Linked DNA regions of Homo sapiens. The protein of the gene in region 1 purifies or fractionates together with the protein of each later gene. This does not show direct contact. Each region holds a gene or a part of one and is shown on either strand. Other genes may lie near its edges. The genes, in order: COPG2, COPZ1, NUDCD1 and ARCN1.

Region 1 (6,925 bases):
CACTGATACTGAGGGAATATGAATCCATGAAACAAAATCATATTTTCTAAGGCCCTAGACATTTCATGAGTTTTTTTTAAGTCTGGGGCAAAAAAAAAAAAAAGAAAAAGAAAAGAAAAATTAATAACAACAGCAGCAAGCAGAATCTACATTTCATGAGCGCAAATATTTTTGCTGGTTTGTCTGCTATATCCCCAACACCTAAAACAGTGCACAGCACACAGCAGCTACGCAATAAATATTTGCTGAATGACGGAAGGAAAACTATTCCTGAATGCTTACTGTATGTTCAGGACTATTCTCAGTGCTTTACACTAATTATCTCATTTAGTCATTACAACTCTGTAACAGGTATTATCATAATCCCCATGTAGAGAAAAGGACATCAAGGCACATAAAATGGTTAAGCTACTGCCCAGAATTATTCTGCTAGTAATGGTAGCATAGGGATAATAAATATAAAATCTGAATATTAACAATCAAAGCTTTAAAACATCATTACACACATAAAAAAGAAAATATCTGGAATTTGCCTGATCTTGCACTGTATTTTCAGAAAAACATGAAGATCTCCAAATACATGTAAACAACATGCTCTAACTAGTACTCATTAAATTGAAACCAAAGGATTTATTGAGAATCTACTATGCGCATCACTGGTTTAGGATCTCATGAATAAAAAGGAAGTATAGGTTAAACATCTCTAATCTCAAAATCCAAAATCTGAAATGCTCCAAAATCAGAAATTTTTTGAGTGCCAATATAACACTCAGTGGAGACACTCATCAGAGCATTCTGGATTTCAGATACTCAGATTAGCAATAGTCAGTGAGTATGTATTCTGCAAATATTCCAAAATCCAAAAAAATCTGAAATCCAAAACACTTCTGGTTCCGAGCATTGCAAAGAAGGTATACTCAACCTGTATATGTCATAGTCCTCGTACTCAAGTTTTACATATTATTTTGTTAACCAAACGTTGTATATGTTAAAATTAAGTGAATTTAAAATAAATAAATATACTTTCCAGAAAGTATTTCACTGAATCTTCAGTATTTCTATTCCAGGACACACTTATCTGAGGAAAATAAAAATAATATACCTGGTTCAGTAAGTAAAGAATCTTTGTAAGAATATGCAAACATCTTCTTGGATTGATTGGAGTTTCATTGAATATACGAGCCTATGAAAAAACATAAAAAACATTGCTACTTTTCTACCTTTTCTATCACAGATTATAGCAAATCAACTTTAATACAGACTATTTTTAATCACGGTATCCAAAGAACATTGTCTATAGTTCTCAATTTACTAAGGTATCTGATAAATTATTACACGTGGCCTTGATTTTCCATCCTATACTTTCTCATTCCCTTAGGTTGACTACTTCAACTTTATGGGCTATACCAGTTAAATAAGGATCACAATACTTATCTATATCATACTAATACAATGAGATTAATACAGATAACTGATTTCAATAACCTTGCACTAAACACCTGTTCTTACATTTAAAATTCCCAACCTGTGACAGTCTTCATGTCTTTGCATTTCTATAAGCTCCAAATTCTCCTGTGACAAGTAACCCCTCTTTCTTTTCCCTCAAATCTATATTCCCTAAACTCTGTTACGTTTCTTGTTTTGCATGTCGTGATCACAGCAGCCCAGGGATTCTCTGCCCACCACTCTAAAACAGAATAGAAAAGAAAGGGCACAAGATACTTCCCAGTCATACCTCCTGTAAAACAGCACTCTTCTCCAGATGCTGGAAAGGATTGGAGCCACTACCTATTTATAAAACAAAACAAAAAAATGTCCTGAACAGCTGTTCTACACAAACTTATATACTTTCCAGAGAAGGGTACTGAATGCTTGGGAAGTGAACACTTGGATGGCACAGTGATAATCATGGCTAATACGCATACGAACTGAATGAAATCATTTTGATCCCGGCTCTGTCACTGCCATACTCGAAGAGCTGAGACTTCTCTTTCGCAGCAACCCTCTCCAAAATGAGTGTCTTCTTTCCCTGCCCTCTTTTTCCATGAATGTTAAAAATGTGTCATTTCCACAACAACGAAGATTAATGAGATTGTAGTAGGGTGCTTTTGATTTCCTTAGGTAAGCAGTATTTTATGTGTTTCTAACACTTAAGGAGAGGCAGAAACGAAGTTTCCCAGAGAATCATGCAGGCGTAAAGGTGCAAGAGGCCATGGAGGTTGACTAACCCAACCCCCTCTCACACTGTGGGAGATGCTACCAAACACTGAGAATTTTTTTCTTTTTGAGGATGCTTGGCATCTTCCCCATTTGCTCTGGACCAAAGACGGGCATCAAGACGCAGGTCACTTCTGGACACCTGAGCATTCAACGAGCTGTGTCCCACGGGACAGTCTTGCCCCCGGGGACCTGGACAGAGCCGGTGACCCCAGGAAAACGATAAGGTACCAGGCACCTGAACGTTCCTCCACACACACCCTGTGCCGTCGACCCCAGCCCCGGGAACAGGGTGCTCCCACTAGGGGTCCGACCCTACCAGCACCCCTGGACGCGGAGACGCGCGCACGCCCTCGGCCCCCGCCGGAGGCCCGCGCGCAGGGGAGGAGGCGGCTCGGAGGGGCTGCGCCGCAAGAGGGGCGGGAACGGGGCGCGCGCGGGCGCCGGGGCGGGAGCGCGCGGCCCGAAGGGAGGCTCCGGCGCCCGGGGGAGGGGCTACGGGCAGGCCCCGGGCAGCCGCGAGGGGAGGGGAGGGGCCGGCTCCAGCTCCGGCCCCCTGGCACGGCGGCGCCCACGCCCCCAGCCCCGCCGGCCTGAAAGCAGGTGGCGGCGGGCGGGGGAAGGGGCGTCCCGCGGCTGAGGGTGGGCCTCGGAAGCCCCGCGCGTACCAGACTCCTCGTCCTTCTTGTCGAATTTTTTAATCATCTTGGACGACTTCCCAGCGCCCAGACCCACCGCAACCGTCCCAGGCGCCGCAGCCGGCGAGCGGAAGAGGCTGCAGGAAGGCCGGCCCCGCGCTCTCACGCCGGTTGGGCCGCCGCGCCTTCACTCGGGGCCAAGGCCCGCCCTCCCCGGCCGCCCTCGGCCCCCGGGACGCAGCCACGCCCCCTTCTCCTCTTGCGGCCCGCCGGAGACTTCGGCTCGACCCTCCCGGCTTGCGACCCGGGAGCCCACGCCCGCAGCAGCAGGAATGTGGTTTTATTTGGGTGGCGACTTCTGCGGACCCCTCAGTCTCAAGAGAGCGAGGCGGGAGGACTGAGGGGTCTGTGTTCACCCGATGACCGTGGCCTTTTTGATAATCCACTGCGGGGCCCTCCCGTTGCGGAAGGCGCTCTCCCCGGGCGCGGTTCTGGTGGGCATGTCTTCCAAGAGCGATGCGAGTGTCAGTGGTTCCCGAATCACTTTGGAAATTGGCCTTTCACTCGCTGACTTCTTGGAAGCTACGACAAAGCACAGGCACCCTGGTGAATGTGGCTTTTCAGAAGTACTCGAAGGATACTTAATGTGAGATGTAAAGGAGACGCACTTGGAGGGACCAGAGGCTGGTCTTTAGAGGGTAGATTTTGGACCGTGTAATACCATTCCCAACCTATTTTATAATTTTTGGATTCCTTCATTTCATCAAAACCCAGTGGAAAATTCATTGCCAGTTTAGAGTCTTCCTTGTTCAAGCCTATTTCTTTCAATGATTCCATCTGAAACCATATTGACACTTAAGAAACTCACTAAATTAACGTGCATTCATTCCTAACTCATGTTCCTCTTTTTCTCAGAGTGTATGCTGGCTTTCTGTTCTCTTGTCTAAGAGTGTAGCTAAGAAACTTTGTCTGCCTTTGGCTTCACTGGCATAACTTGTTTAGAAATGTAAATTGGGTCTATACTCAACAGGATCGTGCCCCTGCAAAATTAGAGAAATTCTAACCTAGATTACATTCTACATCCTAGAGAAATTCTTTCCCTGAAATACAGATTTAAGATGAACTGTTGATATCCTACATATGGTATCATTTAAGATTTAACTCCGACTTGACTAAATGTACTATTAACTACTATGTTTGCTTTATATGGCTTGTAAAGGTCAAGTCATACTTTGTAGGTGGAGTTTTCTTTGAAGGAAATAGAAGTCTGCACTCATTTATTCTGGGGGTGAAAATAAACAGGCTTTGGGGAAGGAAACATCCTCTTCCTCTTCCTTGGCCCAAGGGTATTGGGAACCTAGGCAGAGACAGTGTAGATAATAGGCCCAGAGGTTCTCAAGGTGGGTAATGCCCCGGAGACCTGCTGAGAAGTAGAAGGACCTGAGTTCAGATTTGGGGCTGACCCTAAGACTAGCCCCTTGTAAAGCAAGATCAATCATTCTCTGCTGTTCTTCAGCTTTTCTGTATATCTATGAAGTTTTGTTTAATACCACAGGTTGTTTTTAGCTGTGCAGTATTTACGGAGTTAAGAGCATCAGTAGGTGGAAATGGGATGGGATGTGGTGGCAGATAGGTATAGCAGGAGCAGAGAAGCCTGAAGAAGCCAGTTAAGGGATGGTATAATATGACCCCAGGCCTTCGGTATCAGGACTATTTGGACTGAGGATGGCTGGCAGACGGGTTGAGCAATCACTGCAATGGCTTTGTGGGACAGGCAAGGATACCTTAGGGAGTCTCAGGAATTGTTTGAGGAGAGAAACCCAGTAGGAGAAATGGACCTTATCTTAAAACCATGAGCTGGTGAAGTCTGAGGACCCACCAATTATATATATCTAATACACAAATGTGTACTCAGTGCCCTGAAATTCTTCATTGGGTCCAAACTGCCTACTGGATAAAACCCAAACCTTTATTTAAATAATATTTAAGGCATTGTGGTATTTTCGATTTCTTGTTATTGTTGTTTGTTTGTTTTTCAGACAGGGTCTCACTCTGTTACCCAGGCTGGAGTGCAATGGCATAATCACAGCTAACTGCAACCTTGAACTCCTAGGTTCAAGCAATCCTCCTTCCTCAAGCCCCCCAAGTAGCTCAGACTACAGGTGCATGCCGCCACACCCTGTTAAATTTTTTTAAATTATTTTTTGTAGAGACAGGATCTCACTATGTTGCCCAGGCTAGTGTCAAGCCCCTGGCCTCCAGCAATCCTCCTGCCCCAGCCTCCCAAACTGCTAGGATTACGGACACGCCCAGCCTGTCAAGGCCTTTTATGATCTGTTTCATCTCTTTCACATATTGAAAGTGATATTGTTGGTGCTTGGTAAGTGTCAGACACTTAGTAGGAACCCTTGAAATACTGTTAAATAAATGATAATATGTGAGGAGGATTCTCATTGTACCCTCTGCCATACAACCTTATTCCAAGCCCCTTCTACCCCATTCCCTACCCCAATCCCAGAGACTTTTGTACCTCTAAGACACACAGACTTATCCTTTGGCCCTTTTAGAGCAGTTTTTTCTTCAAAGTATAATATGCATACCACTGGGTGGTTCTAGGTGGTACATAGATAAACATTTTAAAATTTCATTATTATAAATTTGATATAAGTGTTTCAGAAAAGCATATAATTTGTACATCAAAACCATGATATCAATGATATAGTATTAATTAGGACAAGATTTTTTAAAAATCCTTTTAAAAAATGCTAAGTAAATTAACAGCAAATAATACATCAATATGGCAAAAACTATTAAAGTGCTGGGTGATATAGCTTAGTAAACACTGCTAGAGCTTTCTTGAAATTTGAGGATTTAAACAGGGTCCAGAGCTTTGCACCTTTTGAGCCTCTATTTGTTGTTAACTTCCATGCTATAGGGAAAAATAGTCTCCAGGACTACCACGAGAGAAGCCAGTTTGCCACATCTATAATCCTCATGGATTGTATCTCCAGCCCAAATCTCAGTCCAGTAAGCCTTTGCTTTGAAAGAGAGGAGCTTACCATCTTTCCTCATATCTCTCTCATGGACTGGAGCAAAGGTGAGCTGAGGGTACATTTTCTTCTGTGTCCTCAAAGCGTAGACTTTTGAATACTTCCCTTCGCTCTTGAAATCATTGTCAGTGGAAAACCTTAACAAAGAAAGTTCTTTGTTTAGTAGATCCTAGGGCAGGGGGATTCATGGAACTATTCACTTTATTTTATTTTATTTTATTTTATTTTATTTTATTTTATTTTATGTATTTATTTTGAGACACAAGTCTTGTTCTGTCACCCAAGCTGGAGTGCAGTGGCATGATCTTGGTTCACTGCAACCTCTGCCTCCCAGGTTCAAGCGATTCTCCTGCCTCAGCCTCCCAAGTAGCTGGGATTACAGGCACTTGCCACCACGCCTGGCTAATTTTTGTATTTTTAGTAGAGACGGTTTTCACCATGTTGGCCAGGCTGGTCTCGAACTCCTGAGCTCAAGTGATCTGCCCACCTTGGCCTCCTGAAGTGCTGGGATTACAGGCATGAGACACCGCGCCCAGCCCCACCATTCACTTTAAAGTTGGCTACATTCTCAGAGAAGACAAGACAATGATAGGAGCCTGTTGATTGGTGCCAAGTAGGAATATTGTTCCGTGACAAGGGATGCTTCTGAACTTAACACTGTAAACCTTTGGAGGAACTCCAGAATCTCTTCTGTCCTCTCTAAACTACACATAGGCTGCTCTTGTAAGTAGTTTCACATAAAACCTCTTTTGTCTAATGTGTTCTCATAGCACATGGTTCCTGTGATATAGCGCCTAACTTGTATTGAGGGTACTTTTTTTTTTTTCCTGTTTCTTCAAAGCACAGACCTTGGAATATTTCCCCTCAATCTTGAAACCATTGCCAGTGCAAAACCTTAGTTTTGCATGACTGTTTCTCTTTGATTCATGTGTCAATGAGGTTAGGGTCATGTAGGGAAAGTCGTGTCTTACTATCTTTGTACGACCAAAGAATATGTCATTAAATTGTATGGCAAAGAAC
Region 2 (7,027 bases), on another chromosome or scaffold:
CTGGGGTGCAGTGGCACAATCTTGGCTCACTGCAACCTCCGCCTCCTGGGTTCCAGCAATTCTCGTGTCTCAGCCTCCTCAGTAGCTGGGATTACAGGTGACTGCCACCATGCCCAGCTGATTTTTTTTATTTTAGTAGAGATGGAGTTTCACCATCTTGCCCAGGCTGGTCCTGAACTCCTGAACTCAGGCAATCTGCCTGTCTCGGCCTCCCAACATGCTAATATTACAGGTGTGAGCCACTGCACCTGGCCTCTGTGCCAACTTTTATTTATTTTTTTATTTTTTTGAGACGGAGTCTCACCCTGTCGCCCAGGCTGAAGTGCAGTGGTCTGATCTCGGCTCGCTGCAAGCTCTGCCTCCCGGGTTCACGCCATTCTCCTGCCTCAGCCTCCCGAGTGGCTGGGACTACAGGCACCCACCACTACGACCAGCTAATTCTTTTGTATTTTTTTTAGTAGAGACGGGGTTTCACCGTGTTAGCCAGGATGGTCTAGATATCCTGACCTCATGATCCACCCGCCTCATCCTCCCAAAGTGCTGGGATTACAGGCATGAGCCACCGTGCCCAGCCTGTGCCAACTTTTTTAAAATTAAAAGCTCCTCTGGGGTTAAGGGCTCCAATTTGCCAGCCACAATCCGATAGACTTCAGATGAAAAGAAAAGAAGAATTAGCTAAAGTCTTTGACAGGGAAGAGCAGTTTTTACATATCAGATTTTTTTTTTTGAGACAGTGTTGCTCTGTTGCCCAGGCTGAAGTGCAGTGGCGTGATCTTGGCTCACTGCAGCCTCTGCCTCTCGGGTTCCAGCAATTCTCCTGCCTCAGCCTCTCAGGCAGCTGGGATTACAGGCGCTTCCCACCACGCCCGGCTTATTTTTGTGTTTTTTGTAGCCTGGCTTATTTTTGTGTTTTTTGTAGAGACGGGGTTTCGCCATGTTGGCCAAGCTGGTCTCGAACTCCTGACCTCAGGTGATCTGCCCACCTTGACCTCCCAAAGTGCTAGGATTACAGGCATGAGCCACCACGCCCAGCCTATATCAGATTTATTAATATTATTATTATTTCTTGTCACCCAGGCTGGAGTGCAGTGGTGCCATCACAGCTCACTGCAGCCTCAACCTCCCAGGCTCAAGCGATCCTCCCCGTTCAGCCTCCCAAGTAGCTGACTACAGGTACATGCCACCACACCCTGCTAATTATTTCTGTATACACACAAGATTAGATTCAAAAAGCACAGCTCAGGAAAGAGTGGGAGCCACTGGTACCACAGAACACTACCCAGCTGACATGAGACCAAATATTGGTTATAAAGAAAAAACTCAACACATGACTCGGGAAGAACTGACGGCAGGAAGAGACACCTACAATCTTCCTATCTGACACAGACCCAAAACATGTAAAGCACAGTCAACAAGAGTTTTGATATTACAGGAGAAAATGTCTCTAAACTCCTACAATCCATCTCTTAAATAGAGACAGGGTCTTGCTATGTTGCCCAGGCTGGACCTGAACTCCTGGGCTCAAGGAGTCCTGCCTCAGCCTTCCAAATAGCTAGGACTACAGGCATGCACCACCATGCCTGGCTACAATACTTGTACTATAATGGGGATCAGCCATTAACTCAAATTTTCCCTTTCTCTGAGATTCAGCTTCTTCATCAGAGAAATGAGAGGCTTGACCTAGATCAGTTAAGGTTAATGCCTTTTTTGAGTTACAGCAGACCCCTTTGATAAACCAATTACATCTATGGACCTTATTCCCAGCAAAATACATTCACAAATTTTTTTATGATTTCATGGCTAGGCATGCTGGTTCCTACCTGTAATACCAGCACTTTGGGAGGCCAATGTGGGGACAAATAGCTTGAGCTCAGGAGTTTGAGGCCAGCCTGGGCAACATGGCGAAACCCTGTCTCTACTAAAAATACAAAAAAATTAGCTGGGCATGGTGGTGCATGCCTGTAATCCCAGCTATTCAGGAGGCTGAGGCATGAGAATTGCTTAAACCCCGGAGATGGAGATTGCAGTGAGCCAAGATCATCGCACCACTGCACTCCAGCCTGGATGACAGAGCAAGACTCTGTCTCAAAAAATATATATATAAATAAAAATAATTTTTTTATGATTTCAAAGAGTTCACAGAGCCGAGTTTAGAATTAAATGAGATTCTCTCTGGAGATAATAAGATGGTGTGGAGGGGGCAGGAAAAAGAGGGGAAATGAGTGATACTTTTGTAAACCACCCCCTCTACTCTACCTGGCATCCAGTAATGCTGGATAAATTCAATAAATGTGTGTGTGGCCTTCATAAATTAATAAATATGATTGAGAAAACTAACAGCCAGCAGGGGGAATAAAGGTCAGCAACCACGCTCCCTCCAGCTTTCTTTTTTTTTTTCCCTTTTTTTTTTTAAGACTGAGTTTCATTCTTGTTGCCCAGGCTGGAGTGCAATGGTGCAATCTCAGCTCACTGCAACCTCCACCTCCCAGGTTCAAGCGATTCTCCTGCCTCAGCCTCTCAAATAGCTGGCATTACAGGCACCCACCACCACACCTGGCTAATTTTGTGTTTTTAGTAGACAGGGCTTTGCCATGTTGGTAAGGCTGGTCTCGAACTCCTGACCTCAGGTGATCCGCCTGCCTCAGCCTCCCAAAGTGCTGGGATTACACGCGTGAGCTACCATGCCCAGCCACCTCCAGCTTTCAATGGCTGAATTTGATGACTGTGAAATGGGCAGGACAAAGACAACCAAACCCTAAGCTTTTTAGGAATGCAAAGTCTCAGGACCTTTCTCAAAACTCAGAAAGCCTGTCTGTTGGAAAATTTTTTTTTTTTGAGACGGAGTCTCACTCTGTCGCCCAAGCTGGAGTGCAGTGGCTCACTGCAACCTCCGCCTCCCGGGTTCACGCCATTCTCCTGCCTCAGCCTCCTGAGTAGCTGGGATTACAGGCGCGTGACACCATGACCGGCTAATTTTTGTATTTTTGGTAGAGACGGGTTTCACCATGTTGGTCAGGCTGGTCTCAAACTCCTGACCTCGTGATCCGCCCGCCTCGGCCTCCCAAAGTGCTGGATTACAGGCGTGAGCCACCGCGCCCGGCCTTGCTGGAGGATTTTTTACCCAGGGGTCACATAGTCCCTAATTCTTCAACTATCATGGAAGTGAAAGAATCACAGAAATGAGGGACAAAGCAGTACTGCTGGGAAGAGAGATGAACTGAATAAGGAGAAATCAGACTATACTCCAGACCTGAGGCCTGAGAGCACCATTAGAACATTCTGCCTTCTCAGTTTGGTAATCCAGGAGCCCTCACTTAAATAACACTCAGCAAAGGAAAAAAATCAAAAGGGGCTAGATCCATTCCTGATGAGTCCTGGGTCACGATTTGTATCATGATTTATCCCTTTACTCCCCCCCACATCTCCCTGCTTTTGCTCCTGAAAACAAAAAGCTAGTCTCTGAGAGACTGAATTGACAGACTCTGTGTTATCTTTCAGTCTATTTATGCCCCCAAATCAACCCCGAGGCAGAATTGCTCTATTCTCCTCTGGTTTTAGTCTCCCTCTAAAACCACACAACAGAAAAGGAGTTGCAGAAAATTAGTTGACCGAGCTATCCAGGGCAATTGGCTATGGATGGGATATCTGCATTGAGAGTGAGAAAATAGGCCGGGCGCAGTGGCTCACACCTGTAATCCCAGCACTTTGGGAGGCCAAGGCATGTGGATCACAAGGTCAGGAGTTCGAGGCCAGCTTGGCCAACATGGCGAAACCCCGTCTCTACTAAAAATACAAAAATTAGCCAGGCATGGTGGTGGGGGCCTGTAATCCCAACTACTCGGGAGGCGGAGGAAGGAGAATCGCTTGAACCTGGAAGGCAAAGGTTGCGGTGAGCCAAGATCATGCCATTGCACTCTAGCCTGGGCAACAAGAGCAAGACTCTGTCTCAAAAAAAAAAAAAAAAAAAAAAAAGAGTGTGAAAATAAAAAGCCAAATAAAAAAGCAGGCTTCATCTGCAGCATATATAACTTAGATTACACAACAGGAAGGACTTCCTGAAGAGATGGGTGTGGTCAAACACCAGAAGAGGTGACACAGGCTAGGGAATGTAAGGCCAGGAGAGATCCCCCTAATAATCTGATGTAAGGAAACCTATTCTGCCCAAAAACAGGAGGGACAGAATGTGAGAGGGCCCTTGCCAGCACAAGCATCTTACAAGTGCATGGACTCATTCTCTGAATCCATCTTCATCAGCTGTCCCCTGGGCACTCTGCCTTTCCTCTTCCTAATTACTCCAGCACAAGTGGGTACATAGGTACTGATTCTTTATCCCTGCTCCATCTGATTTGCTCCTCTAGTTTCCCTTTCCACAACCTGTTTTCTTGTCAACATCCAGACTCTAATCAAGCCATGTCAATGGAGTAAAGTAAGAAACAGCAGCAAGTATCTAGATAAAAAAGACCCTAAACCTGCCACTAGGCTCCGTCAAATACCTGGATAATTGCACTCATCCTCTGCCTCCCAAGGCAGACCTGGCTTCTCAAGGGTCTGGTTTTCCTCACATGGAGGCCCCCTCCTCCTCTTCTGACCATGTGACAGCTCCCCTAGATCTTTGATATAATTTATACCTTGCCAGGGACCAACTCTTTCCCACCACTGTGAAGAAGAGGGAAAAAATATATATAAATACGTCGGAAATCTATAACAAGGTCTTCTTGGAGGGCAAGACATGGGGAGAGTTAGAAGCAGCGTCAATTGCTCTTTGGGGGTTTTAGTTCAAGCCGAGGTCTGCTTCCAGCAATCAACCATTAAAACAAGCTGGCCAGAGTAACAGCACAGTTTATTCTGATCATTTAATTTGAAGTGTCAATAAATTAAACTTCAATCAATTAAACTAGGTGTGCAATAACCCAGATGGACACCCCGACACCAACATAATCACAATAAAAATTTTTATTGCTGCCAGGGACCTCACCGGGGGCAGTGCTGGCACTGCTCGCGCCCTAGCTGAGAAATATATCTCCACAGCGCAGGAATGAGGAGATTGCTTCTCCTAACAAAATGGAGGGGGCCAGGCACCAGCAAGGACGCAGCTGGGAGAGGGGCACAGGGGACTGCCAGGAACGAGATGGGAGTGCTTTAGGGGCTTAATGTAATTGATACCTTTGCCCAGAGCAGGGGGAGGGGGGCATTTAGGCCAAGTACCTCTACTGTTAGGGCCAAAGGAATTTAACAAAAGCCCCATTAAGATGATTCAGGAAGCAAAGGCCAAGGAGCAACATCAACCTTTAAAGTCATTGACATATTCTGCATAGTTTCCTCCTCCATACATACTCATATCCTTGTGCACTTTGGATGGCCTGATTTTTTAATGAGGCTTAGAATTTAGGATTTGGTTATGGTTTTAAAATATTAAGGTAAGACAAAGTACAGAATTAGAAGTCTAGTCTGTAAAGCACTGGAGAAGCACTCTGAAAGTGAATCCAGAGAGGATTAGGAAAAATAAAACCTATGAACAAAGATTTAAAGATCTAAACCGATACAGAATTCAGTTTTGTTTGTTTTTTAAGACAGAGTTTCACTTTTTGCCCAGGCTGGAGTGCAATGGCCCTCGGCTCACTGCAACCTCCGCCTCCCAGGTTCAAGCGATTCTCCTGCCTCAGTCTCCCGTGTAGCTGGGGATTACAAGCGCATGCCACCACGCCCAGCTAATTTTTGTATTTTTAGCAGAGACGGGTTTCACCATGTTGGTCAGGCTGGTCTTGAACTCCTGACCTCAGGTGATCCACTCACCTCAGGATTACAGGTGTGAGCCACCGAGCCCGGCCCGAGTAATTCAGCTTTAAAGAAAAAAAGTAAAGCAGGAAGGAGGAAGGGGAAATCCTTATCTTTAAGATTCCACAGGTTATTAATGGAGAATGGTGATCTGCAGAGATCCTCTTCATTCACAACTCAAAAAGCGAGAACCAGCAGATACAGCAAGAGAGAAGAAGCCAAGTCCAAAGATGCAGGCTGAGATCACTATTATTAAGCATTGGGAACTAAAAGAGATGAAAGGGTCTCTTTCCTTAGAGCCTAAGGAGACCTGAGAGAGATTAGACAAATCTGCTTGAAAGCTAGAGCTGGATTACTTAATTCAAGAAAGAAATGTGACCATGTGACCCACTGTAAAGTACCTAAAAGAAGGGAACTTACTGTTATTTAGAAATTCCACAATCAATGCAAACTTTGATCAACAGTTCTTCTTGACCCCCTGTAGCTTACCTGTCCCTTTTTCTCGACATCCTGCAGCTATGTATGTACCTTGTAGAGTTAAGGACAGAAGAATATGCTTTGATCAGATTGTCCCTAACCGCATTACATAGGTTTCCCATAACAAAGAACCAGTGTGGTTTTAAAAGCAAAGTCCAGGGTTACCTGATCAAGTTAGCAGGGATCTGTGAATGCAGCCTATTAGGCATAGATTAAAGCAAAAGAATAAGGAAGAAGCAGGCTGAAACAGACTTCACTGAAGAAGCAGAGACAGAGAACTAAGGGAAGAGAAATGTGACAGAGAGACTTTCTTTTTCTTTAACTTTTCTGAGACAGAGCCTTGCTCTGTCACCCAGGCTGGAGTGCAGTGGCGCATCTCGGCTCACCGCGACCTCTGCCTCCCAGGTTCAAGTGATTCTCTTGCCTCAGCTTCCTGAGTAGCTGGGATTACAGGCGTGGCCACGCCCAGCTAAGTTTTGTATTTTTAGCAGAGACCGGGTTTCACCATGTTGGTCAGGCTGGTCTCCAACTCCTGACCTCGTGATCCGCCCACCTCGGCCTCCCAAAGTGCTGGATTTACAGGCGTGAGCCACCGTGCCCGGCCTTTTTTTTTTTTTTGAGATGGAGTCTAACACTGTCGCCTGGGCTGGAGTGCAGTGGCGCGATCTCGGCTCACTGCAACCTCTGCCTCCCTGGCTCAAGTGATTCTCCTGCCTCAGCCTCCTGAGTAGTTGGGACTATAGGCTCGTGCCACCACGCCCAGCTATTTTTTTTT
Region 3 (7,027 bases), on another chromosome or scaffold:
GCCTCCTGGGTTCAAGTGATTCTCCTGCCTCAGCCTCCCAAGTAGCTGGCACTACAGGCACCCACCACCACATCCGGATTTTTTTTTGTATTTTTAGTAGAGACGGGGTTTCATCGTGTCAGCCAGGATGGTCTCGATCTCCTGACCTTTTGATCCGCCCACCTAGGCCTCCCAAAGTGCTGGGATTACAGGCGTGAGCTGCCGTGCCTGGCCAGTCTTTTCATGCTAAAACATAACCTTCATTCATTCATTCAACATTAATAAAATTATGTGATTCTGCCCTCAAGGAACTTACTTTCAGTTTAGTATAAAAGGTAAGAACAGGTACATTAGCTTAACTTATTTTTAAAAATTAGTATCTTCAATATTACACTATTAATACCATCAATACTAATAGCAAATAGACATTTATTTGATAACTATTTATTAAGCACCTAATCAAGGAAGCTAATAAACGATTTTTTAAAAAAACATTTTTGGTAATAACAAAATGATCAAATTAAACCAGTTCATTCACACTATTAAGGTGGTATACCTTATAAAAGACTTCTGGAAAATACATGAGAAAATAAAGAAAAAATTATGCATCTATCTTGCCCTTGTAGAACTATTAACCTAACTGGGAAAATAAAAGACATAAATATATGTTTATGAAAATACCAATAAGCTCTATTAAGAATAAAAATTACCTTTGATTTTCTCTGATATGTCTTCATCCATATTTTCTTCAAGATCTTGACCAGCCTGAACAAATGTTAAAGACTTGTAGGATACAATCATTAGACCATTTCCATCAGGCTCAATAGCAGCATAATGTGGCACTGACTTTCCACGGAGAATATCACGCTTAATAATTTCATATTTTTTATTATCTGTAAGAAAAGTATTTCAGAACAAAACATTACAAATAAAAACTATTATCAAAATATTCTGATATTTAAAAATTGATTTTAATTATAATTAAATAATTTGAATGTATTATTAAAAGGTACACTATTAAGAGTCTTTTCATAAGGATAAACAATTTACAATCTAATTTTCCGTAAATAAGTCCCTATTTTAAAATATTGGGTCTGGTGAAATTTGTTCCCGATTGTCCTGTCCAATGTGGTAGTCACTGGCCAGAAGTATCTACTTAAAATTAAGTAAAATTTAAATTCCTCAGTCATACTAGCCACATTTTAATTGCTCAATAGCCACACATGGCTAGTAGCTACTGCAGTGAATGGTACACATATAAAACATGTCCATCTTGGAGAAATCTCTTATTAGACAGCAGTACCCCAGAACTCCAACATGACCGGCTTACTTGGAATAACAGCTTCTGTATGACCTACCTCTCCTTGACTAAAGCCTGTCTGCCTTCTCAGCAGGTATGTGATAAGTTTCTTCTGAAAAGTGACAAATTGAGGACAAGGGGAAACATGCAGTGTGGTCTATTTTTCTGCCTGCTCTAACTCCCGATAAGGGGCATTTTAACAATGAAATAAATTTATAGCAGAAATGATTTTTTTTACACAAGACATTTATCTATATGCTTATAATTAAACATAAATTAGTGCTACTTTTAAGATATAAACAATTAACTGTATTCCAAAAGTTTCTGACAAATTAAACTTATTTTCCTATAAAGACAGTAATTTTTTGCTTTAAAAAGTACTCAAACATTTTAGCTGACTCCATACTTTTACCTATACTGTTACTCTTTAAGTGGGTTATACTTGTAGGCTTCATACTGAGTAGTCGAAAATCACAACTTAATGTCATATTATTATGAGTTTTTACATAATAATACCATCTGTTCTAAAATATCTCATTGTTTTTACTCAAAATCCTCACCTACATTCACACATTCAGTTCACACATATTTAAGAACAGGCTTGTAATTTAATGAATGAACAAAACTCCTACACTTCCCCTATAGATACATGCAGGGCCAAAAGTCCTACTTGACTTTAAAGATCCAAACACCGACATCACATATTTATAGCGTGGCCTTTCCCAGCATGCATGGGACAGAAAAGAATAGGAAGCCTCAAAAACCGGATTCCGTGGTTAAATATGTGGAGAAATGCTAGGTTAAAATTAAATGTAAATTGTTTTTTGTTTGTTTGAGACAGGGTCTTACCCTGTTGCCCAAGCTAAATGCAGTGGCACGATCACTGCTCACTGTAGCCTCAAACTCCCAGGCTCAAGCAATCCTCCTGAATAGCTGGAACTATAGGTGCACAACACCATGCCGAGCTAATGTTTCTGTAATTTTTGTAGAGACGGTGGCTCACTATGTTGCCCAGACTGGTCTCAAACTCCTGGGCTCAAGTGATCCTCCTGCTTTGACCTCCCAAAGTGCTGAGATTACAGGCATGAGCCTTTGCATCTAACCTAAACTTTTTTTACTCACAATTTTTAGAAACTTTAATATGCTTAATGTGTAATGGAGCTATTTTATGTCCACATTTTCAAACTTATCTGACCATAAATATACTTTATGAAATGTTTCATTCAAAATAGTTTACGAAAATACTGTTCTGTTAACTAAAAAGAAAAAGAAGAAAAAAACCAATCATATTAGTAGTAGTCTGGGAGAGAAGGAACAAGATATAAAAGAAAGATAAAGGGAACAATAAAGAGAATTAATGATTCTATAACTACAATCTTGGGAGAAAAAAGGTTAGTCTCAATGTATTTGTCCAGCTGAGGCAAAGAAACGAAGACAAACGGGATGGAGAAGTAGAGCTGGAGCAGAGTACTGCTATGTTCTGAGGCAATTTGATGAGTTACCACAGATTGAGAAAAAGATGTTACAGAACCAAGTGTCTTGGAGAAAGGAGGAGGAATATGCATGACAATGTCTCCTGTAAGATTTTGAATTACGTACCTTAAAAAAATTAAGGCTTCCATTATCTAAAGCAGGGGTTCTGCAAACTAGGACCCTTGAGCCAAAGCTGAATCTAGGCCTATTTTTGTATGGCCTGTGAGCTAAGCATGAATTTTATATTTTTAAATTGTTAAAATAGTAATATTTAAAGAATAATATTTAAATATATGTCAAAAAAACATAAAATTCAAATTCCTATGTCCATAAAGTATGATTGGAACACAACTATACTCATTCATTTATATATTGTCTATGGATGCTTTTGTACTGTGTTGGCATACTCGGATAGCTGTGACATAGATCTTATGGTTACCAACTGGGATTTCAAAAAAGTTTTCTAATATCTAATTAAAGTTTAAAGTTACTGTGTTCCTCCAGAGATAAAACTACAACACCAAAAAGAACTAATAAATTATATTGAATACTTCAAAGAACAAATCTAGGAGACTTATTCAGTTTATTTATAAACAATTTTGAGATATCTATTAGATAGACAGATAGCTGTTTTAGAATAAAAGGCAAAACCCTCTTAGGAAACAAATACTAACAGTCTTTACTGAATTGCAAACTAGCAGCTATGGTAAAGAAATATTTTTCTACAGAGATGAATGATAATTTAATTTATATTAACTTACTCATAAATGAGTCAGCTAATAAAAACTACTGAGAAAAAGAGCATAGAGTCATTATGGAAACAAGCACTCTCAGTACTCAACTACAGTTAAAAAGAAAACACTCAATGAGTCAGCAGGAACTAAGCAAAGGCAAAGAGATTTCTTAATACCTTAAAGAAATCCTAATTAATTCATGAGATTGTAATTTTTAATGTCAAGTTAGAAGCTTGACAGACAGCTTCAAACAGACCAAAGTTCAGGACTATTCTAAACATGGGAGCACATCAGGTAAGAAAAAGTAACAGTTTTCCTAAATGTAGAAACAAATAATGAAGTTCAATTAGATTTAAAAGAAATCATACCTGTACTTTAATGAAATAAAGACATTCATTTCCAAGTAAGTATTTATATTTATTTACATTTAAATTATACTATAATGTATTAATTTACATTTAGTTTTAGGTATATGTTTCTGTGTATCACACATATATATGCATATATTTTTGTATATATTAAAAATATACCCGTTAAATTATTCAAAACTTATATAACAATGTCTTCTTTTATATAAAAGGCATAATTGGCTGTGGATGCACACTGCAATTTTTTTCTATAAAATATACCTGAGGAAAAACTATCTATACATATTCATTCCACCAGTGGTGGCAGGTGCCAGAATTGTAACACAATGCCCAAGAAAGAGCAAACAGTATTTACAGGGACAGCTTTGTGTTTCAAAATCTACTAAATAATGCCAACCAGTAGAGACAGATTCAGACTTTTGTTTTACCTTGATTTTTCTTACTGATAGTGACCCACTCCAGAGAAACATAGAAACCACTTCCTTTCATATCCAATTCCTCTTTCTCTATTCGAAGAAGTAGGGTAGCTATAGAATGTTCTTCAGCATTTAGCAGTGAGATACTGTGAATTATAATAAAAGGATCCCCAAGTTCTTCATTAAACATAATCTACAAAACAAAATTACACACACAAAAAAGTGTACATAATTACATGAACACAGATAGCATAGAGGGAATATATAGGATTCTGGTGATTCAACAGTTATTTTGGATACTATTTATTACAAGAAATTTGAAAATAAAAAGGCCTTTACATAAAGACTGCAAGTTTAGATAATGTTCCCTGAGGACAGAACTTTTAAGAAAATATTTATTTGTATAAGAAAAAAACTGATCATTAGTCTTGGCTACCTTGCTTCCTCTCAGTTTCTAGATATTGTATATGAGTGTGCATGTGTGTATGCCTTTTTCCTGTTTTTTGTTTGTTATTTATTCTCTGGAAGTTTACAAAGGCAAGAGTCAAAAACATTGAAGAATAAATCACCAAAACATGTTTTTTCTCAAAAACAAAAGAGCCTATTAGCATTTAAGAATAAGTTAACAAACTCTATTTAAAATAATCCTAAAGTGTTTTTTGAAAAGCAAAAAAGCATCATATAAAAACACACAAAATCTTGTCTAAGCATCATACAGAAACACACAAAATCTTATCAAATTCTTTCTTATACCACAAACACAAGATCTCAACAACTATTACATTTTTAAGACTAAATACAAAATAGAGAAGGTTTTAAGGCTGCTTCCTAAACAAGATTTCCAAATAAGATATGGACAGTTGAGAAAAAGCCTAACTGAAAAAAAGGTAGCTTTAAAAAACAAAAACAAAAAACAAAAAACAAAACCTGTACCTGGTATCCCCACATATCTACTTCTACTTGAAAACCTTACAAAGAAAAATGTGCTTTAATGTCATCAAGTTCCCTATGTATTTGAACATCTGCCAAAATCATTCAAGTAATGGGCCTTCAGAATCCATTCTTAAGATTTCCATAAACAGAAAAAACAAAAGCTTAAAAAAAATCCTTAAATATTCAAAACAGAGATGACAGATGAAGGCAGGTTTTTATTGGTTGATTGGGTTTTGCTTTTGTTTGAGGAATAGGGGAAACAAAACGGAAGAACAGAAAATGACAAGTTTTGGCAGGAACAAGTAGCTAGTTTATTGTTTCTTTTTTTCTTTCTAGTATGAGTGAAAGGAACTGTAATGAAACCAGAAGAGTAGATGGCGTACTTTTAAAAATTGTTAGGCTGAAGTTTCTAGTTTTCTGAACAAGCCCAGCATCTAAACTGTGATACCGTTGATACATGGCACTTCCATGGTATTAGAGGCAACACATTTGGAAAGCAAGCTGTCTCCTTTAATTTCTCTTTTTAAACTTCAGTAATCACCACCACCACCCTTGGCCCCCTTACCCCCCACCATGCTCCGTAATCACTTCTACTTTTAGCTTCTCTGTTATATTAATTACCCTAAAGTCCTAAAACCCTCCTGAATTGTTTCTTAAAGTGACCAATATTCCACAGTATCCCTCCCACCTCAATTAATCCCCAAGTCTCCTCCCTCTCCCACCAGTATCTAGTCAAAACTATTATTAGCTGAAAACATCTCTGAAGGGAGCTTATTTCATTAGGGCAGTATATGCTAAAGAAGGCACAAGGTAGAATTAAGTTTTTAAATTTATTTAAAAGATACTATTGAAGTCTTAATACACGCCAAGGGGATACACAAAACAAAACCAAAAGAAGTATAAGCCCATATGAAATAATGTGTGGTATTATTTTTAAGATGAAAGTGAGCCAAGTAGGTTTGTCCTGTTCAAAATCTACAGAATCCATACAGCTCAATACCAGATAAATTCCCACTCATATCTCTCCTGCGCATTATTCTCAAAATACCTTCCAACTGTTTCAGGTAGCTGTGCTACATACCACATTACTTCTGTTTTTCAGAAAAATGAAAGTTGTTACTAAAGGCCAAAACAGAAATTGCCACAGTATCCAATGAATATCTGAAACTGTGAATGCAACAGGCTCTTGTAAATAGGCTACTGCTGTTCTGGTTATTTACTGTGTATTTTGAACATACTATAATTTGGTAGTATAACATTTAGTATAACTTAGTAAGGTAGGTAAACCATTTGGTTCTAAGACCTAACTGGTTTTTCTCAAGTAATTAAAGCCTGGTCTCTGTAGGCATCTGTTGGTCAGATGAAATTATTTTATAAGACATAAATATATTAAGCTCGCATCTCTTTATTTACCCAGAACTAAAGGCTACCTACAGAGATTCAGACAGTAGCAATATTACAATACACTTATTAGCATAACTCAAAGGAGCTGAAGCAGTAAACTAAATCTTTTGATTATCTACTTGGCATCATTTTCTTCTGTTTTCAAAAACTGTAGTTCTAGAGAAATTAATTCCTTATTTATTACTATTAAAACCCTAAACTACCCTTTAGATTTATATCTAATTTTTAAAATTAAAGTAAAAATGTTGTCTTGGAAATTGGCATATAACTATATATTTATATCATGTATTTTTCTAAGTAGAGAATATTCTGGTAATCTGACTACTATTTGACCAATGTAAACATCCCAGCAAATCTAACATAATGGCAGAGGAGAAAATCATCCTAACATAAGCTTTTGGTCAACTCTTCTTCAAGAAG
Region 4 (7,027 bases), on another chromosome or scaffold:
GTTGCAGCGAGCTGAGATCGCACCACCACACTCCAACCTGGGCAGCTAAGCGAGACTCCATCTCAAAAAAAAAAAGTAAGCAGGTTTATCTGAGGGAATTATCAACAGTTCCCAAAAATTGTTCCCATTATCCCTCATCCCTGGATCACTTCTCATCACGGTCTAATGGGGAAGAGAAGACTCCAAGACTCCAAGATTAAAGATGAAGCCTGACTTTTTTGACTCTCCAACTGCCGTCTGACAAAATTAAGACTCCAATCCCCAAAAAGGCCAGAAGTAGCATCAAATTCAAAAGCTACACTGTCAGGAGTGCATGTATCAAATGTAGAAAAATACGCAAGGAAGCACAATACATATAAGATGGAAAAAGGCAATGAATACTCTCACAGATTACTTTCTCTTAAAAAAAACATGTCATTAATTTTTAATGTTAGGTCCCATTACAGCATCCTGAATCAACAAGCAGACACCAAAGTGAGTCAATAATCCAATAAACATCTCATTTTATAATGCGCTTTATTTGATTAAAGAATTTGCCTTCTTTGTATACACTGGAATGTTATATTCCCTATGTATTTTACAGGGTTACAAAATGTCTCTCATTTTAAATATTACCCCAAAAGTAATCTCAGAAAAAAAAGGTTTTTTGAAATTAAACTTGACTTTTAAAAAATCATACGGACAAACAACTTTCAAACAAAACTGGATTAGTAGGATTTCTTGCCTGCTTAACTAACATGACAGACTTCTTGTCCCAAGCCCTTCTCAGAAAAACCTCATGTGGAAACCAAGCTAGAGATAAGAATTCTTCCCTGATGCAGTTAGGGGAAAGGGAAAGGCTAGAAACTTCTTTGGCAAGCAATTCCACACACAGCCATTTATGTGTGAGTGCTCTGCTTCAAGCACAGTACACTCTTTGCAGGGACGGCCAGATGTTCAGAGTGGGAGTGGTACTTTTCAACCAGCTAAAAGTGCAGAAGTCATCTAGTCGTCTGCCTCTTCCCACTGCCAGTGCCTGCAGCCTTGCAGCAACTTTTAACCACCCCTATGGACTGGAATATTGAGTTAAAAGCCAAGGCTGAGCTGGCTGACGCTGTAGTCTCCATTGAAAAGGAAATGGATGAGATGGAACCGAGAAACCACCAGTACATGATGACACTCAAAAGACTTAGGGGGAAAGAGAAGGAAGGATTTCAGAGATGGGGACAGACTGGTGGAAAATGTTGGGCTGACTGGAAGGAAATGGGGTATACGTGAGTAATATGTACATATCGAAACAATCAGTTGCCTCCTGAAATGCAAAAAATCAAATGGTGAAATGGAGCCTCCTTGATAGTTTAGGGCCAACAGGATTGGCAAAGACTCCCTGAACCCACAGCCTTCAAAATCATAACCCCATTTCTGTTAGAAAGGAGGGGACTGATGACAGAGAGTGCAGTCTGGAAGAGGGAGGTGGTGAAACTGAGGAATGTGAATGGATTACAGACTGTGGCCATTACGTTTTAGCTTAAGTACCCAAAATGTGGAGAAATGAAAATTTGGGTAGCAACAGCAGCAGACATGATTACATGTGGATGTGAAATCCCTAACTGGACAGACATAACCATTCTTTTAGACATCTTGAAGAGGGACTGTGCCATTTGAAAGGTGCTTCTCAGCTATCTTTAATATTGACACAAGTGGGATTCATGGTACTGTTCTAAACTGGAAGGACAGGCCCTGAAAGGAAAACAACTTGGCAAAGAGATGAAGGAATGAATTGATACGGGAAAAGAACAGAAGACATGCGTATCTTTTAACTTCTAGACCCCATACCCCTCAAATAGTTCACCTGAATAGTCCAAAAATCAAGAATGGGTTAGATATACTTGTTCCAGGAGTGCCAAATAAATATAATGCCTGTAAACAGATGATCCCAGTGCCTGACTGAATGTATAGAAAGAAAAACCTAAAGGTAAAGGGTATGAATGATTAAAATTTTCTACAGAGAAAACTTTTTAAAAACAAACTAAGTATGAAATATAACTATATTTAGGGATTATATTTAGGGATTAAAATAAAGGAGCAGCTGGGCATGGTGGCTCATGCCTGTAATCCCAACACTTTGGGAGGCTGAGGTGGGCGGATTGCCTGAGCTCAGGAGTTCGCGACCAGCCTGGGCAACACGGTGAAACCCCGTCTCTACTAAAATACAAAAAATTAGCCAGGCGTGGTGGCGTGCACCTGTAGTCCCAGCTACTCGGAGGCTGAGGCAGGAGACTTGCTTGAACCCAGGAGGCGGAGGTTGCAGTGAGCTGAGATCATGCCATTGCATTCCAGCCTGGGTTACAAAGTGAGACTCCATCTCAAAAAATAATAATAATAATAATAATAATAATAAAATAAAAATAAAGGAGCAACTTAGGTAAAGGTAGAGGAGGTATTTAACTGGGGGCATTCTCTGGAGAGCTTGCTTTCCTGCTGGCCAATACAATCTGCCAAAGAAAATTAGCAGCCTTTCCCTTTATGTTTGTGCCATTTCCTTATCAAAGAATGTCTCTGTGACACTGAAACATGGGGGTGAGTCGAGGGTCCTTGCGCGCAGAGAATCGTGCATTGTATCAGAAAAAAGGGGTCTCCAGTGGCTTGTAAATCTGGGAAAAACTCTTCAGCCATCATTGGCGTCTTCTTTATTAATCTGAAAATTTTCCTTTTCAGCTCCCTCTTCTTGGTATTACAGAATTTCATACTTATCCACTAGGAAAGTGGTCTCTGTGGAAAACCTGACGGGGCTGTTTCCATCTACCTGGGTCACTTTGGTAACCTAGGAAAATAAACAAAGAGTAAGGTAAAGCAGGAGGTTTGAGTCTCCATCATGTTGACTACATTCTCATTACAGAACATATCAATTTCCCTAAAAGCGGTATTAAAAGTAACTGTAAAATACTAGAAAAATGTTCAATTCACAACTGAAAGTCACAGCATCACTCTTCCCCACCAAAATGATTAAGCTGCTTTTCTTCTAGATGGAGAAAAGACAACTGTTGGGACGAGATGTTCCGTAGTATTAAGTAAAAGCTCCAAAATGAGTGGCCACAGCCCAGCCCTGCCCTGTATAACCTATGAAATTCATAGACATTCTATCAGGATGATATATTAACATTCTGACCCAAAAGGCAACGTTCTAGCTCTTCACATTATTCATTTGCTCTGCTCTCAAAGTCTCGTGTTAAAAGTCCCAGTAAGCTGCTCTATCATACTTATTTTTTAGGCATGGCTGGTCCAATGAGGTTTTTCCTTTTTAAATAAATAAATGTCCAGCTTAATTAATTACATGTAACAATGGTACCTATAACGGCACCAATACAACACTTGAACCACTGATTCGTATTTTCTAATGAAGTTTTGGGAGAGCAATTATAATGTCCTAATCTTTGAATAGCCCCAATAGGAAAATTTACCCATTTCTATCTAATGTCTTGAGTTCAATACAGTTGCTTCCAACACTGATGGGGTTATGTCACTAACAGGATAGGGAGAGAGAACTGCTCTTTGGAATCATTCAAGGGAGGAAGCTGCAATTTTCTAAGCATTTACAGGGGAGACGGAGACCATATGGGAAGCTAAGGTAGGGCCAGAACAACAAGCAAGTCAAAAAGAGGGGAATATTAATAATATAAACTGGGTCCTAGTAATGCAAATTAAAAAACTGGAAGAACAGCCAGACGTGGAAGCTCACTCCTGTAATCCCAGCACTTTGGGAAGCCGAGGTGGGCGGATCATCTGAGGTCAGGAGTTAGAGACCAGCCTGGCCAACATGGTGAAACCCCATCTCTACTAAAAATACAAAAAAAAATTAGCTGGGTGTGGCAGTACACGCCTGTAGTCCCAGCTACTTGGGAGGCTGAGGCAGGAGAATCACTTGAACCTGGGAGGCAGAGGCTGCAGTGAGCTGAGATCGCACTGCACTCCAGCCTTGGTGACAGAGCAAGACTCCGTCTCAAAACAACAACAACAATAAAAACTGGAAGAATGATGAGTTAAAAAATAATGATCCGGGCCGAGCGCGGTGACTCGCGCCTGTAATCCTAGCACTTTGGGAGGCCGAGGTGGCTGGATCACGAGGTCAAGAGTTTGAGACCAGCCTGGCCAACATGGTGAAATACCGTCTTTACTAAAAATACAAAAATCAGACAGGCGTGGTGGCGCATGCCGGTAGTCCCAGCTACTCAGGAGGATGAGGCAGGAGAATCGCTTGAACCTGGGAGGCAGAGGTTGCAGTGAACCAACATCACGCCATTGCACTCCAGCCTGGGCAACAAGAGTGAAACTCCGTCTTAAAAAAAAAAAAAATCCGCCAGGCGTGGTAGTTCACGCCTGTAATCTCAGCACTTTGGGAGGCTGAGGTGGGCGGATCACCTCAGGTCAGGATTTCGAGACCAGCCTGACCGATATGGTGAAACCCTGTCTCTACTAAAAATACAAAAATTAGCCAGGCATGGTGGCAGGCGCATGTAATCTCAGCTACTGGGGAGGCTGAGACAGAATTGCTTGAACCCGGGAGGCAGAGGTTGCAGTGGGCCGAGATCATGTCACTGCACTCCAGCCTGGGCAACAGAGCAAGACTCCGTCTCAGAAAAAAAGGAAAAAAATCCATTGGGCACTGTGGCTCACACTTGTAATCCCATCACTTTGGGAGGCTGAGGCGGGTAGATCACCTGAGGTCGGGAGTTCAAGACCAGCCTGACCAACATGGAGAAACCCCGTCTCTACCAAATATACAAAAATTAGCAGGGCATGGTGGCGCATTCCTGTATTTCCAGCTACTTGGGAGGCTGAGGCAAGAGAATTGTTTGAACCTGGGAGGCGGAGGTTGCGGTGAGCTGACAGCGCGCCATTGCACTCCAGCCTGGGTGAAAAGAGCAAAACTCCATCTCAAAAAAAAAAAAAAAAAAAAAAATCCGAAGGAACAGCTCACACATCTCCATTGCTTTGCCTACCTAAAGGACAGAGTTTGCAACAGAATTGGCTCATGATTATTTGTACTAATAAAGGGAGCTGTGACATAAATAACCCTCAAATAATTTCCATTTGTAATAGAATGGATTTTTTTTTTGTAGTAATTTTGTCTTCTAAATAAAACAATTTCATTCTTTGGGTATAAATCAAGTGACAGCAAGGCCTTAAAAAAACCATGTGTTGGGGTGTTTTGGCAAATCGACTTTAAAATATATAAGGTTAAAAAAAAACAGGCAACTAAGTGTTTATGAATCTTGCATAATCCACAAGTACTTTTATCTGTATTAACATTCCATTTCTTTACTTTGTCTGATCTAGAGAGGAAAACTGAGGTAAAGCAATAAAAGAATTTGACCACGATCATACAATGAATTAGAAAGGGAATTCCTGTAGGAGACATCAGTTTTTTTCTGAGCTTTATCTGACCACAAAAAGCCATGCTACCTGTCTGGCATCCTATACGTGTTCCTACTGTCCTACCACTTTCCCTATATATGTTCTCAACTAAAATGGAGTACCTGTATGTTACAGTAATTTTTCTTGGAGACAAAGGAAACTTGAACAGGGAAGAAGTCATTGGGCTGCCCAGCAATGCTAAACTCCAGGCTGCCACTCTTATTTTTGGCATCAATCACAGGCAGGCACCACTCCAGGGTATTTCGTCGACTGTCATGTCGATACTCCCCATCGATCTCACCGATAACAGGCGCGCCGACACCAGACCTGTTGTGAGAAACATTCTGGTCAAGGTAGCTGTTCAGAGCTAGAACTCCACCACGGAAAACCAACCCCAAATTTGATATATGATCCCCAAATTTTGCCTTCTAGGACTACAATTTCAGGGGAAAAAAAGGCTAATAACTTCAAGGATCAAACGATGAAGTCCTAGCACCTTGGGCTAAGAGTTTCACTCAATTCCCTCTGTAGATATAGTTAATATGCAAAAATAGGTATTTGGCAGATATGCCTATGGGCTGCTCCAACTTAAGGACTAGATCTGGGGACTGCGACCAACAGATGTGTTAAGATGGCTATGTTTCCAAAAACCCTGCACCAATAGGTTGCTGCCCTATAAATAAGGAATTTTAACATAATGTAGCACTCTTTATAGGAGACAATGGGGAAACAAGCAGATTGATAATAGTGGGGGAAAACTCTAAACATCAATAGTGGAGATGAATGGAGGCCTTTGAGAGAATTTGTTTTCTTGTTCATTTGTTTTTTGAGACAGAGTCTTGCTCTGTCGCCAGGCTGGAGTACAGTGGCGTGATCTCAGCTCACTGCAACCTCCGCCTCCCCAGTTCAAGCGATTCTCCTGCCTCAGCCTCCCAAGTTGCTGGGACTACAGGCGTGTGCCGCCACGCCCAGCTAATTTTTGTATTTTTAGTAGAGGCGGGGTTTCACCATGCGGGCCAGGATGGTCTCATCTCCTGACCCCGTGATCCACTTGCCTCGGCCTCCCAAAGTGCTGAGATTACAGGCATGAGCCACCGCACCCGGCCGAGAATTTGTTTTTAAAGATTTCAGAATGTTTCAAACTTATTGAAGTTGACACCAATGGGTTTATTTGATTTACAATCCAGTAAATGGACTTTTATTTGATAAGTGAAAGCACAATTACCCCTGGGGCAAAATGGAAACATGATGGGAGAAACAGATCCGTAGTTGTCCTTAATCTGCGAGAGAAGCAGGGCTAGTTAAGATTTACTCTGCACCCCTACACACGGCTGACAGGCAGTGTCACCTACTCCTACACATTCTAAATTTACCAGCTTTTAATTCACCAGTGACACTCAATGTTTATATTAGGGATAGGGTAAATAAGGGAGACAAAGTAAACTTTAAGGGTGGCATAAGACTATTAACTCTTCCCTATCAATTTCAGGGTCCTGGTTCTTTTATGTTCCTTCTCTGTGCCCTTGCTCTAATTCTGATTCTGATCTCTTCTAATTTGATCAGTTCTAGACAACGGGAGTAAAATGTTGTGTAAGGGTCTCTTCTGGAGACCATTGCAAAACTGAACTAGAAT

The links.
Region 2: the proteins of COPG2 (region 1) and COPZ1 fractionate together in Homo sapiens (co-fractionation; 5 studies listed by BioGRID and IntAct, with this or other methods). This does not show direct contact.
Region 3: the proteins of COPG2 (region 1) and NUDCD1 purify together in Homo sapiens (co-immunoprecipitation; 3 studies listed by BioGRID and IntAct, with this or other methods). This does not show direct contact.
Region 4: the proteins of COPG2 (region 1) and ARCN1 purify together in Homo sapiens (affinity purification with western blotting; 2 studies listed by BioGRID and IntAct, with this or other methods). This does not show direct contact.

Annotation. Positions count from the first base shown.
Region 1 is NC_000007.14:130,665,747-130,672,671, forward strand, and holds the start of COPG2 (coatomer subunit gamma-2), read right to left. Parts: upstream 3,003-6,925; 5' UTR 2,923-3,002; coding exon 2,886-2,922; intron 1,789-2,885; coding exon 1,736-1,788; intron 1,184-1,735; coding exon 1,103-1,183; intron 1-1,102. Other genes in the region: TSGA13 (testis-specific gene 13 protein), read right to left, coding at 3,268-3,437, 5,915-6,042. UniProt on the Homo sapiens protein: The coatomer is a cytosolic protein complex that binds to dilysine motifs and reversibly associates with Golgi non-clathrin-coated vesicles, which further mediate biosynthetic protein transport from the ER, via the Golgi up to the trans Golgi network.
Region 2 is NC_000012.12:54,328,119-54,335,145, reverse strand, and holds part of COPZ1 (coatomer subunit zeta-1), read right to left. Parts: intron 1-7,027. UniProt on the Homo sapiens protein: The coatomer is a cytosolic protein complex that binds to dilysine motifs and reversibly associates with Golgi non-clathrin-coated vesicles, which further mediate biosynthetic protein transport from the ER, via the Golgi up to the trans Golgi network.
Region 3 is NC_000008.11:109,289,062-109,296,088, forward strand, and holds part of NUDCD1 (nudC domain-containing protein 1), read right to left. Parts: intron 4,464-7,027; coding exon 4,283-4,463; intron 873-4,282; coding exon 690-872; intron 1-689.
Region 4 is NC_000011.10:118,596,401-118,603,427, reverse strand, and holds the end of ARCN1 (coatomer subunit delta), read right to left. Parts: intron 5,722-7,027; coding exon 5,517-5,721; intron 2,804-5,516; coding exon 2,714-2,803; 3' UTR 395-2,713; downstream 1-394. UniProt on the Homo sapiens protein: Component of the coatomer, a cytosolic protein complex that binds to dilysine motifs and reversibly associates with Golgi non-clathrin-coated vesicles, which further mediate biosynthetic protein transport from the ER, via the Golgi up to the trans Golgi network.